3 separate regions of the Homo sapiens genome follow, and all the other regions are linked to region 3. A link means that fine-mapping ties the variant in region 3 to the plasma level of a protein whose gene starts in the linked region. Region 3 holds a variant in brackets. A gene starts in each other region. All regions are shown on their reverse strands.

What was found. PIP is the posterior inclusion probability: the model's chance that the variant is causal. The UK Biobank Pharma Proteomics Project read protein levels with antibody pairs (Olink). The fine-mapping took linkage between variants from a reference panel, not from the people measured, so its PIPs are less certain.
Region 1: GALNT5 starts here. The variant in region 3 is fine-mapped to the plasma level of the GALNT5 protein (UK Biobank, PIP above 0.99).
Region 2: TGM2 starts here. The variant in region 3 is fine-mapped to the plasma level of the TGM2 protein (UK Biobank, PIP 0.94).

What each region holds. Positions count from the first base shown.
Region 1 is chr2:157,255,791-157,260,142 of GRCh38, reverse strand. It overlaps GALNT5 (polypeptide N-acetylgalactosaminyltransferase 5), which reads right to left and starts at 2,438. Exons shown (of 10, transcript NM_014568.3): 1 at 607-2,438. The coding sequence starts at 2,060.
Region 2 is chr20:38,162,228-38,166,227 of GRCh38, reverse strand. TGM2 (transglutaminase 2) reads left to right here and starts at 958. Exons shown (of 13, transcript NM_004613.4): 1 at 958-1,039. The coding sequence starts at 1,030. RefSeq lists a silencer at 666-1,105.
Region 3 is chr7:50,357,820-50,361,819 of GRCh38, reverse strand. The region is part of intron 3 of IKZF1 (IKAROS family zinc finger 1); the gene reads right to left. Among named protein-coding and RNA genes, the nearest start is that of IKZF1, 55 kb to the right of the region's middle. RefSeq lists enhancers at 532-1,049, 1,050-1,569. The variant C/T (reference allele first, on the strand shown) is at 1,536.

The DNA.
Region 1 (4,352 bases), not on the chromosome of region 3:
CTTTTTCCAACATTATGATTCCTATGTAACTGATCTCCTGAAATATCTACCATCTCCACCTATAAAGGAGATTAAATTTTAGGGAGTAAAGTCACTTCTCTTGCTATCCTGCTTATCATTACTTATGATTAGGCAGAATTCTGCTGGTTAAGATATGATTCCAGGGAGGCCTAGAAGAGTCCTTCTGTGTGCTTCTTTCCCAAATATATTCCTGACAAACTTGCTAATAATGAAAAGTTCCAAAATTGGGAATTCACTTCATTGTCACTATTCTAATGGAATTACACTTTAAGCTCTACCATTTATATACACGTTATTATGAACTGAGTTCATCTAATCATTTTAATAGGTTTTCAACAGAGGGAAGAAAATTGAACATGAGCTAATGGTAGGGACCAAAGTCTCAGAGAACAAGAACTCTGCAACTGCTAATAAGAGAATTTTTGTCTCTGTAGCTGGTGAAATATTTGAATGATATCCAATGATTAATGTTTCTTTAATTCTCTAGGTGACCAAAAATCACACAGAATTATCTAGCAATAAATCCTCTTTACATAACAGCCAAAGCACTTGGGGTTGAGGAAAGAGAAGAGAAATAGGTCTTACCCAGCAGGTCTGGTGTCTTCAATGGCTCTATCCACTGGGATCAAATCGCTAAGGTAGACATTGAAGTTTCCTTCTTTCCATCTTCTTTCTGCCTCCTTCTCCTTTCCATGGGGGACAACTACAGGACGCCCAAACTGCCCTGGAGCTTTGGGGTCCCTTGGAGAAAGTGTCACATCAATTCTTAACACCTGGTGCGTTCCACTGTCTTCAGGTAAAAGGGCTTTTATATGACTCTGGTTGTATTCTGTAGAGGGGGCTTTGGCAGTTATGTTGATTTTTGCTGGCTCTAGCCCTCCAGTTAAAGCATGGTTAGTTTGGGACAGTGGCACTCTATGTGGAGCAAGTGAAGAGGAAGACATCTCACTTCTATTCCTGGAAATGTGTTTACTTTGGCTTTTACCCAATACTTTAGGAAATATTGTTTTGGTTTTAGAATTAGAGACCTCTTTGGGGTCTGCCTTTTGCTCTTCCTCTTTGGTTATAATCACAAGATGGCTTTCAGAGAAATTGAGTTTCTTCCCATGAGCCCCTCTAGCTCCATCATCCTTTGACAAACTTCCCAAAGGTGTCTCATTAATAGATTGCTTCCTTAAGCGATTTGAATTGACAGTGAACTTAGGAAAAGGAAGACTCGTATTGGCTTTGTGTTTATTTGCATTGACTTCTTTGCTCTGAGTCTTAGTTTTGTTTAAGGCCATGGCTTCCCCAGACTTCGGCACTGCTGTGCTGGCAGGGTGTGCCCTCTCGTTTGCTACTGCCTGTGATCGCTGCTTTGGTCTATCAGTACTAAGACTGATGGTCACATTCAAGTCCCTTTCAGCTGCTAGTTTTGATGTGTCACTGCTGGGACTATGACTCTTCCGGGGCTCCTGTTTTAAACTGACACGTCCCATGTGTACTGATATTTTGACTACCTGAGTTCCTTTTGCTGCTATGAATGAGGTCTTTGGAGCCCCCTGAGCTGTCGTTTGCTTTGGTGTCCCCTGGTGAGAGGAGGCTTCAGGTTTGGTGCCTCTCCCGTCTGTCTTCTGCTTGTTAGGAGTCACAGGGAGGGTCTGCAGATGTGCAGGATGCCACAACGGCACAACCTTGCCCCTTCCCAGGGCATTCTGCATTTTTCTTTCCCTCTGGGTTTGGTCCAAGTCCACCTCAACCTTGAGCACACTCTCCTCAGTTTTTCTAACATTCTCTTTGCCCCATGCCCCTTTCCCATGTCCCCTTAGGGGAGGTTTCATCTCTTTTATGCTGCTGTAAAAAATTTTTCCTTGGTCTGGCTGAACTCTGAATCCTATCCGCTCCCTCCTCACAATGTCTTCCTTGATGACCCGAGTGTTGATCTCACTGAATGAGAGGCGGAGAGCTGCCATGTCAAAGAGGAGCCAGATGACAGAAGCTACAAAGATAAATGCCAAGACTCGCCCACTTCCTCGGAAAAACTTTCGGATCCTGTTCATGGTACAAAGCTTTCCCTAGCAGCCTGCCCTCCCTTAGCCTGCTTACCTTGAGTGGAGAGGAAGCTGAAGTAGCAGCAGCAGCAGCAGCAGCAGCAGAGTTGCCAGAAAGTGACCCCCTCCCCTGAACACAGCAGGAAGCAGCAGTCCAAGGGGAAAGCTCAGTTCCTACCGCTTGTCAGTCTCTGCCTGCGTGGCATTTCATAGCAGAGCATCTGTGCCTGCTTGGCTGGCCCTGGCTAAGTTCTGATAAACACTGGCCTTAGGTCACTCCAGGAGCAGTTGATTCCAGCCACCGAACAGTTCAACATATCACTTGTCTTGTCTCCGGGAGCCCATGTCCACCTTCCTACAAGCCCAAGAAAAGGTGGGGGCCAGATTGAGACTGCCGTTTCTCTCCTCCCCGTTCTCCGTCTGCACGCTGTAACTCAACACCACTTCTCATAAGGAAAACATTTCATGCCATTACCCAGAAAACTTCATTCAGCTCTCACCTTCTGTGTTATGTGAGAGCATGTGTGTTTAAACGGCAATTAAAGAGGAAAAAAAGCTATCTAACTTGGAGGGCATGTGTTCCTGGTTTGTGACCCCACCTACCCTACTCCTGCTCATTAACCCTGTTGTAGCCAGGTGCCAATGCTCTGCCTGAGGAATTTATCACTGAAGTTAACATTTCAGCTTTAAGACATAACAGCTTAAAGAAGGGGCCTGGTATATCCTCACTTCCAGAGATGTATATGTTTAATTATTTAGATCATTCATTCAAGGGGTTTCAATGTATTTCTTTGTAAGCCAACTATTTTTTTTTCACTAATCCATCTGTTTTTATTATTACATTTGATTACAAATAAACTTAATTTGTCATACTGCTATAAAAGTTTCTAAACACTTTGTTATGGTCTGAATGTTTATGTCCACCCAAAATTCATATGTTGAAACCTAATCATAAATGTGATAGTATTAGGAGGTAGGGCTTTTGAAGGTGATTTCATTATAAGGATAGAGCCCTCATGAATGGGATCAGCACCCTTAAAAAAGAGGCCCTATTGCCTTGCCATTCCACAAAGTGAAGACATAATGAGAAGGTGCCATCTATGAACCAGGAAATGGGCCTTCACCAGTCAACGAATCTGCTGGTGCCTTGATTTCTGACTTCTCAGTCTCTAGAACTGTGAGAAATAAGTTTCTGTTGTTTATGAGTCACTTAGTCTATGTTATTCTTCTATAGTAGCCTGAACAGATTAAGATACACTTACTCTCAGTTTCAGTACTTATCTCGTCTTAAACCAGCAAGCAACAGTTTCAGGACCACACCAGGACTTGGACCAGATTTTGAGTGATGCTGGTTGACTGGTAGGGTAGCAGTTCCGCCACAGGCTTTTCATTAGAACCACTTGAAACAAGATCCCCAAAACTCTGGTCAATTGATGAGAGAGGAGGTGGAGATGACATTTGGGCTGATATTGTATTAAATATATATATATATATATATATATATATATATATATATATATATTTTTTTTTTTTTTTTTTTTTTTACAAAGCTTCCCAGGTCTTTCAAATGTGCAGCTAAAGTTGAGAAACACTGGTCTAGAAAAAAAGTCTCAATTTTTTGTTTGTTTGTTTTTGGTTTTTGAACATTGCCTATGAGACATTTAATTTTAGGTGTCTACTTGACTGGGCTAAGGAACACCCAGAGAACCAGTAAAGCATTATTTTTAGGTATATCTGTGAGGGTGTTTCCAGAAGAGATTGGCATTTGACTCAGTGCACTGAGTGGGGAGGAGATGCCCTCACCCAATGTGGGCAGGCACCACTAATTGGTTGAGGGCCCAGATAGAAAAAAAGGCAGAGGAAAGGTGGATTCTGTCTCTGTTAGTGAGCTGGGACATCTTTCTTCTTCTGCCTTTGGACTAGAACTTTAGATTCTCTGGCTTTGGCCTCTGGGGCTTGTACCAGTCTGCCCCCACAACCTCCACATCCCTCACTAGGTTCTCAGGCTTTTGACCTCAGACTGAGAGTGATGTTATTGGCTTCCCTGGTTCTCAGGCCTTTGGACTCAGAATGTGCCATGTTACTGGCTTTCCTGGTTCTCCAGCTTGCAGGTGGCCTGGACTGAGGTTTCTCAGTCTCCATAACCACATGAGCCAATTCCTGTAATAAACTGCAACTCACTTATCTACCTCTATGAATCCTATTGGTTCTGTTTCTCTGAAAAATCCTGGCCAATACAGTCTACAACTTGTGTGACATTCCTTCCCTGTCTAAAGTACAGTCTAATAAAATCTATGCATT
Region 2 (4,000 bases), not on the chromosome of region 3:
CTGATTAGATGGATGGCTGATTAGACAGATACAAGGATGGGTGAGATCGGAGGATTATCTGGGTTTTGCTACAGGAAGGGACATGGGTGTGTCTGTTTTTGCAGGTGTGTCTGCATGTCTGTACCTGAGTCCATGCCTGCATGTGTGTCTACCTCTGAGTAGCCACATCTTTGTGTGTCTGTGGGTGCCCTCTCTGATTTTGCGTCCACATCTGACAGTGGCATTGGTGTCTAGGAGGTCTGTGTGTGTGCCAGGTGCCTCTGGACACCTGCTCATCTGTGTCCACAGCTGTGTGTGGCTCGCGGTCAAGGCTACCTGGCTGTGTCAGGCTGTATCTATGTCCTGGTGTGTGTCTGCCATTCGAATCTGAATTTGTATCCATGTCACTGTGTCTGCGTGGCCAGCCGTGTTTGGTGTATCTGTGGGAGTGTATCTGTGTTTGTGTGTGTATCTCCACAGCCCTGTCTTGGTGTGTCTGCGTCTGCTCTCTGTGTATGTATATCTGAGTATGTGTGTGAGTGTGTGCGTGTGTGTGTGTGTGTGTGTGTGTGTGTGTTGGGGGTGGGGAGGTGTTCTTGATCCCAGATCTGACCTAAGAGTCCACATCTGTGTGTCCAGGTGCACCCCGGTTCCGTTGTGTGTTTCTATGAGGGTGCTGCGTGTGTCTGTATCTGAGTGTGTGTGTCCAGGTGTCTGTTCTCCAAGGTCTGAGTCTGTGGGTCCAGGTGTGTCTGTATCCTGGGCTAGTTGTGTGTCCCTGTCCGCTCCCCCAGGGGGCGCCCTCGTCCGGCCGCCGTCCCTCCCTCGGGCTCCGGTCCCCTGGGTGAGCCCCAGCGCTGGCGGCGTGGGCCCGGGACTGGGCAATGGGTGGCCTCCCAGGTCGCCGCCTTCCCGCGGGGCCCCGCCCCCGGCCCGCCCCAAAGCGGGCTATAAGTTAGCGCCGCTCTCCGCCTCGGCAGTGCCAGCCGCCAGTGGTCGCACTTGGAGGGTCTCGCCGCCAGTGGAAGGAGCCACCGCCCCCGCCCGACCATGGCCGAGGGTGAGTATCAGAGTCACCGCAGCCGCCACTCAGGGGCCCCGGGGCATTGGGGGTCAGGACCCGGTGGGAGCTGAATCCCTAAGTCCTGATTTGGAGAGCAACAGGCAGACCGGGCTGGGTGAGGAGGCGTCTCAATGCTGCTTGGAGCCTCAGTTTCCCCATCCACACTGCATAACCATTAACCCTTGCCTCCCTGGATCAGGTGAGGCAATGGAACGCGACGGGGTGTTGTAAACTGTAAAGTACTGTCCTGGCGGACCACTGGCACGTGTCCTCAGTCAGTCAGTGGGGGCTGGCTCTCTGATGTGTGCCTGGAGCTGTGCAGGGGGTGCTGGCCTGGCCTCAGAACACTTAGGTTTGGGTGGTTCTTGCCAGCCAGGACCAGGTGGTGTGCATGCCACGCCGGTGGTGTGCAAGCCAAGCCTGGCTGAGTCCTTGGCTCCAGCGGCCAGAGAGGAGCTTTCGGCATCCTATCCAGGAGCCTTCGGAAATCAGGCTTGTTCTTCCCGCCCTCACGTTCTGCAACCCTAGACCTTGGCCAATTGTTGAGTCTCACCTATAAAATAAGGACAACAGTGTCCTTATTTTATAGGACAAGGTTTATGAGATTTGTTTTCCCCCAAGACCCCCACCCATCTGTCACCCTGACCGTGCCCTGGTCCTCTGCTCCAGCCTTTGGTGCATCTGTGAGGAACGAGAGGAGTGGAACAGAGGCTTAACTAATTTCATACTGGTGCCCCTGACTCCCTCCCCACACACAAGCAGCACTCTCGTAGGTCCCAGCTGGAGGGATTTCTACAATGGAGGATGTCACTGCTGGACCCAGAATCCCAGCTGGCTCTTGGGTCAAGTTCATCTGGGGATGGCTTCTGCACCCATTGCAACCCCCAGGAAGGGGTGTGGGACAGGGACATGGGGCAGGTGGAGCAGGAATGGGTGGCAGGAACTGTGGACCCACCTGACCCTGCTGTGTGATCTCAGCCACCTGCCTCCCTCGGGCCCAGCTCCCAACACACTGTGATGTGTCGCCTCGGTGGCCGCTTGTCCTCAATGCATCTTCTCACCCCCATGCTCAAAAGCAGGGCTCAGTGGGGCTGGGAGATCCTGGAGATGCCAGTTATGATGAGCCTCCAGCCCCATGTCACAGTGGCCACTTCTGACAGAGGTCTCACTGGCCTAGAAGGCCTAGGCCCTTTCTAAGTGCAGAAATCCTATAAATCCTACAATTCTAGACCTGCATCTTTGGAGCTGGGCGTGATTTCTGGAAACCCTTCTTCGGACAACAGATGGAGAAAATGCCCCAGCTCCCACAGCCCAGGGACTGGCCGTATCTCCAGGGTCTTCCATGGGAACAACAATGGCCTCTTTCCTGCTCAAGCTCCCTGGGTCTGAAGTTTCCAAAAACATTTCCTCGCCGCAATAGGCCAGCAGGAAGTTTTTCCTTCTGGCCACTGAGGTCTCTTCTGTTGTGATTACACGGGGACCGACATCCCTGATACTTCAGTGGCGCAGAACTATCTGCCCCCAGGTTTGAGAACAACACAGGACATGGTGGCGAAGGGGTGGTCATAAGAGGGGCTGGAGAAAAAACTGAGCTGTAGTGAGGTGGTTCCCAGGGCAGAATCCTACAGAATCCTACAGCTCTGGATTCCAATCCCAAAGCAGCCACTTGCTCTGGGACCTGGAGCCACCTGGTGTCTTTGTCTACAAAATGGGAATCATGATAGCATCTATGTAAGCGGAGTTGTTTTGGGATTTAAGTCGAGATAATTCACATACAAGGCACTTTGCATCTCATTTTTGGAATAGTCGATGGTGAGCAGGAGACCTGGGCTCTCCCACTGCAAGGACCAACTTGCGGCGTGACTTTGAACAAATTCCTGCCCCTGGGCCTCACTTGGACCACATGCTGTCCAGTGGCTCCACACTCAGAGTCTGTCTTGCCCACTCCTCCCACCTTAAGGGCTTCCCCATCCTGACCTTGAGCTTGCCAAGGTTTATGAGATTTGTTTTCCCCCAAGACCCCCACCCATCTGTCACCCTGACCGTGCCCTGGTCCTCTGCTCCATCTGAAACTGTAAATGGAACTTTCACGTATCAAGCTTCTGTCCTGGGCTGGGCCGTGGGGAAGGGGGTTCCCAACACATCTTCTAGACTCACAGCAGCCCCTTGAGACTTCAGAGGAGGAGTCACAGAGAGGGAGAGACACTTATCCAGGCTCACACAGCAACACAGCAGAACTAAAACCTACCTCTGGAAGTCTCCAAAGCACCTATCATGTTAAAAATGTTTTGTTTTGGAGAATATTGAACATACACAAAAATAGACAGAATTGTTTAATAAATTCCTATGTCCTCATCACCCAGCACTGACCACCGTGGTGTCTCCTGCCCCTGCGCACCTTCATCTCAGACATCACATCATGTCATCTGTCAATGTTTCAGTATATGCCTTTAAAGGATAAGGACTCTCTTTTTTTTAACACAAACAAATTAACAAAAATTCTTTGATATCACCATTATGCCATCAGTATTTAAATTTCCAGTTGTCTCATACATGTAATAAATGTTTTAAAATACTTTTTTGAAATCAAGATCCAAATAGATCAATACATCACAACGGGTTTAAGTTTCTCTTTATAGGTTCTCTCTTCAATGTTTTTTTCATTTTCTTTCTTGCAATCTATTTATTAAAGAAACCGGACCCTTTGTCAATAATTTCCCAGTATATGAAGTTTGTCAACTGCATCCTGGTTCTGTGTTTAACTTGTTCCTCAGCCCTGGGTATTTCCTGTAAATTGAACATTGGATCTAAAGGCAAAGGCCATGTAATTGACCTGTACCAAATACTGCCCCTGCTTAAACCAAAAGAACCCTCTGATAGCAATAGAATAGCTCGTGTTTATTGAGTATTTATTACACAACAGACATTGTACTAAGTGTTTTACATGCATTAATTCAT
Region 3 (4,000 bases):
ACTGCAACCTCCTCCTCCCGGGTTCAAGTGATTCTCCTGCCTCAGCCTCCCGGGTAGCTGGGACTACAGGCGCGCACCACCATGCCCAGCTAATATTTGTACTTTTGGTAGAGATGGGGTTTCACCATGTTGGTCAGGATGGTCTCGATCTCTTGACCTTGTGATCAGCCCACCTCGGCCTCCCAAAGTGCTGGGATTACAGGCGTGAGCCACTGTGCCTGGCCAGGATTAGCTTTTAAATGATTGTTTTGGTGCCATGTGCAATCTTCCTGGATCCTGAGGTTGGAGCATTTCCTCAGCTGCCCTGCTAGGCCTGTTTCATGTCAGCCAACTTCCGGGTCCAGGATCTCCATATAACAATTTAGGGGAAAACATTCAACAGGTTGAAGAACAGGCTTAGGGATATTTTCCCAGTGTTGTAACCTTCTTGCTTACTCTTTTTTGGAAGAAATACTACTTTTTTGTAAAAATGATATTTGCTGATTCTAAAGACACTGAGTAGACAGAAGCACTATGATGGCACCTCTAGAAATTACCCCCAAGTTTTATAATTTAAGGAGAATCATATGCAAAGAAGAAAATGCAAAAATGATAATGAGAACGGGGTAAGAAAGCTTGGTTCATGCTTTAAAAGGAGAAGGGAAAGGGACATTCAGGCAATCAAGAAAGGCTGAAGAAAACTAAGAGGGCTGGAGGAACAATGATTAGATAGGAAGGCTCTTGTCAGGGATCGTGGCAGGGGTGAAGAGTGTGAGGTCCTCAATATAAGTGAAAAATGAAATTTAATTTTGTCATTCCAAATTTTATTCTAATAAGGGAGATTTGTGCTGGATCACTGGGCCAAAATGATAAGGAAGGGAAATGCTACAAAATAACTGGGCTGCCCATAAGAGTGTGGGTCACACGGCGGGCAGGAGGGGCTTGGGGTGTGTGCATGGAGAGCCACCTTTCCATATCTAGGCCCTGTCAGGACATGCTGGGGCAGCGCCGGGCAGAGCCACATGGTGATGACTGGCTGTGTTCCCTGCCACATGGAGAGGAGAGGCACAGCAGGCAGTGCGGAAGGGACGACATGGGGCTGCGGAGCTCGGCAGTCGTCAGAGTGTCTGCAGCGTGGGCCACAAGGCAAGAGCCTTTGATCAACTGTTTAGCATGTGCTCTAGCTGATGTAACTGCACACGTGTTTTAGATGTGGTTTTCCCAGTAGCACACTCTTACAGAAGCAACAGGTTAAACTGTTGCTGCCGGTGTAAAAGGGAGTTCGGCAAAGTGAAGGACTAAAGACTGAAGGAAATGTTTTGACTGTTAAGCTGGACTTGGCTTCCTGAAATGGGGTTATTGTATGTGCATTTCACACGTTCTTGAGGTGTAGGACATATCACTTCTGACTTCAAATGAGAACAAACATGCAAAGAAAGGGCTGAGGAGTTTAAATCCATTTCTGTGGCCTTTGTCCACCTAAGCGATCAACTGAAGAGAACTCTGGAGGCTGTGCTCAGCTCCTCCTCAGGCTCTGCAGACAGACACGGCCATTC[C/T]CTCTCATCCCCAGGGCTGGCAGGGTGTCAGCCTCAAAGATTCCAGAAGCCCAGGCCCTGCTTCAGGGAGGCCAGAGATAAGTAATCTCCCCCAGGACACACAGAGGGTGGATCCTCTGCTGTCCCTCCCTTCCAGAAGCCCAACGGGTCCCTGTCAGAATTCCAAGCAGAAGGTGACTCAGCACAGAGGAGGAGGGATGGGAAGAACAACTCAGTTGCCCTCTTAATCCCGCCGCTCTCGGCCATGGGTACAGTCCTGCACACTTTGTGTCTTTAAGTGGTTGCTAATCTTTAAGGAAGGGGTATTTGTGTAATACTCTGCTGAGAAATCCTGGGGAGTCAGCCAGCCTCTGGTGACCTGACCCCACTACAGGTGGAGGTCAAGTCTTCAGTCCTGCCTTGGCAGTTTCTTCTGCCTTCCTCCCAGAAAGTGGATTTCTCAGGCATGAGCTCAAGCTGAGAGTCTGGTGATGGTAAAGATCAGAGTGCAGGCAATCTGGCATAACTGTAGCTGAACTGGCTGTCTGCAGAGGAAAGCAAGGGGCTGAGGAGCGTGGAATTGGGTGGGTGCATCTGGTCTGGTGCACTGGTGCACACACATGTGTACATGAGTGACCACGTGTGCACGTGTGTACATGTGTATGTACATGTGCAAATGACACACAGAGATCGCCCTTTCTACACATATATTTAAAAAGGCAGCTCAGTAAAATCGACTCACAGGTAGAGAGTCCATTATTTACTGTGACTTTTCCATGCAGAAGGACAGTGGTGCGGCCAAATAGGCAGCAGTCTCCACTGTTCGGAATGTCAGATCAGCTCCTCCTCACTCTGCGCACATTCCCCCGCCTGCCAGCTCTGTGGGCAGAAGGCTGCAGGAGTCAGATCTGGTCTCTACAAGACTCAGAAGTCAGGATGAAATTCATGTTTCCTCCATTTCTTAACAAAGAAGCACACCTGTAGAGATTTCTGAGCAAGGAATTGTGACTTGTTGCAGAATTTATTTTATTTTATTTTATTTTTTGAGACAGGATCTTGCTCTGTGGCCCAGGCTGTAGTGCAGTGGCTCGATCACAGCTCACTGCAGTCTTGACCTCTTGGGCTCAAGCAATCCTCCTGTCTCAGCCTCCCGAGTGCCTGGAACTATTGGAATATGCCACCATGCCCAGCTAATTTTTGTATTTTTTTGTAGAGACAGGGTTTTACCATATTGCCTAGGTTGGTCTGAAACTCCTGAGCACACATGATCCTTCCACCTCAGTCTCTCAAAGTGCTGGGATTACACGTGTGAGCTACCGCACTTGGCCATAATTCTGTATCTTGATAAGAAACTCACAAGTGGCTGTGAGAAGACATAAGGAAGGAGATGTGGCTACTTTAAGCCGTTTAACGTTTCATGTAAACTTATGTCTAACCAGGGAAAAAAAACTCCAAGGACTTTGTAATATATAGTTCTCTTAAGAAACTCTTTAAGGCTTTTTTTTTCTTTTTCTTCTTTCCCTTCTCTCTTCCTCCACCTCTCCATGGTCGTCTCACTATTTCCTAAAAAGCCCCGTGCTGTATAAATGCTAGGCATATGTTATTTTATTTAGCCCTTACAATAAAGCCTTGGCTTGTGAGTGATCAGCATTGGCTGCAGCACCCTGCCTCCAACCACCTGAAGGTGTTTACAGACGGCCTCTGCCTCTGAGTAGCTCTGGAGTCCGAGCCATGCACAGGACATCACCAAGCCTCAGCTTCCTCACGTATGAAACCAAAGAAAACGCCAGCCTCATGTCACCATACAGCTGGAGAGTCACAGAGCAAAGGTGCCAGGTCCCCGCCATTAGCTGGCGCTCAGGAAATGCTGGCTGCCCCTCTCCTGCCCCGTCCCACAGCCTTCACGCGAGATTGGCCCACTACTCACACACCTCTGGCTTCCTGGCACTTCTGTCAAAACCTCACATCTCTTAGGAAGAAACTTCAAATGTCATGTTTTTTCCTAGTAGATATCAGCTGTTTCTTAGGATGAGAGTGTCTCAAAAAGTCCTGTCCTTCACATCAACAACACTTCTTCGAAGTAAGGGGGGTTCCTCCCTTTCTTTCCCATCTTTCTAGTTTTATGATTCAACAACCATTTACCAGGAAATATCTGGAAACGACTAATTTGGGTCACACACTCTTCCCATTTACAAATCGAACAACTAAGAGCGTGTAACATGTAAGTCAAGTCATTTACCTGGTTCCACAGCTGTTGCCATGTGACTCCAGGGGCTTGCAACCAGGTGAAGGTGCTATGCTATGTCCTTCCTAGACATTAACTTTGTTAACCCTTGAAGCAGCCCTGTGAGAAAAATATCACCCCCGCTTTACAAATGAGAGAAACTCCGACTCCAGATGGTCACCCGACCTGCCTAAGACCAGGTAAGACAGTAGAAAAGAAAAGTGGAGGCCAAATTCGAGGCACTCCAAAGCCCATTTCTTAA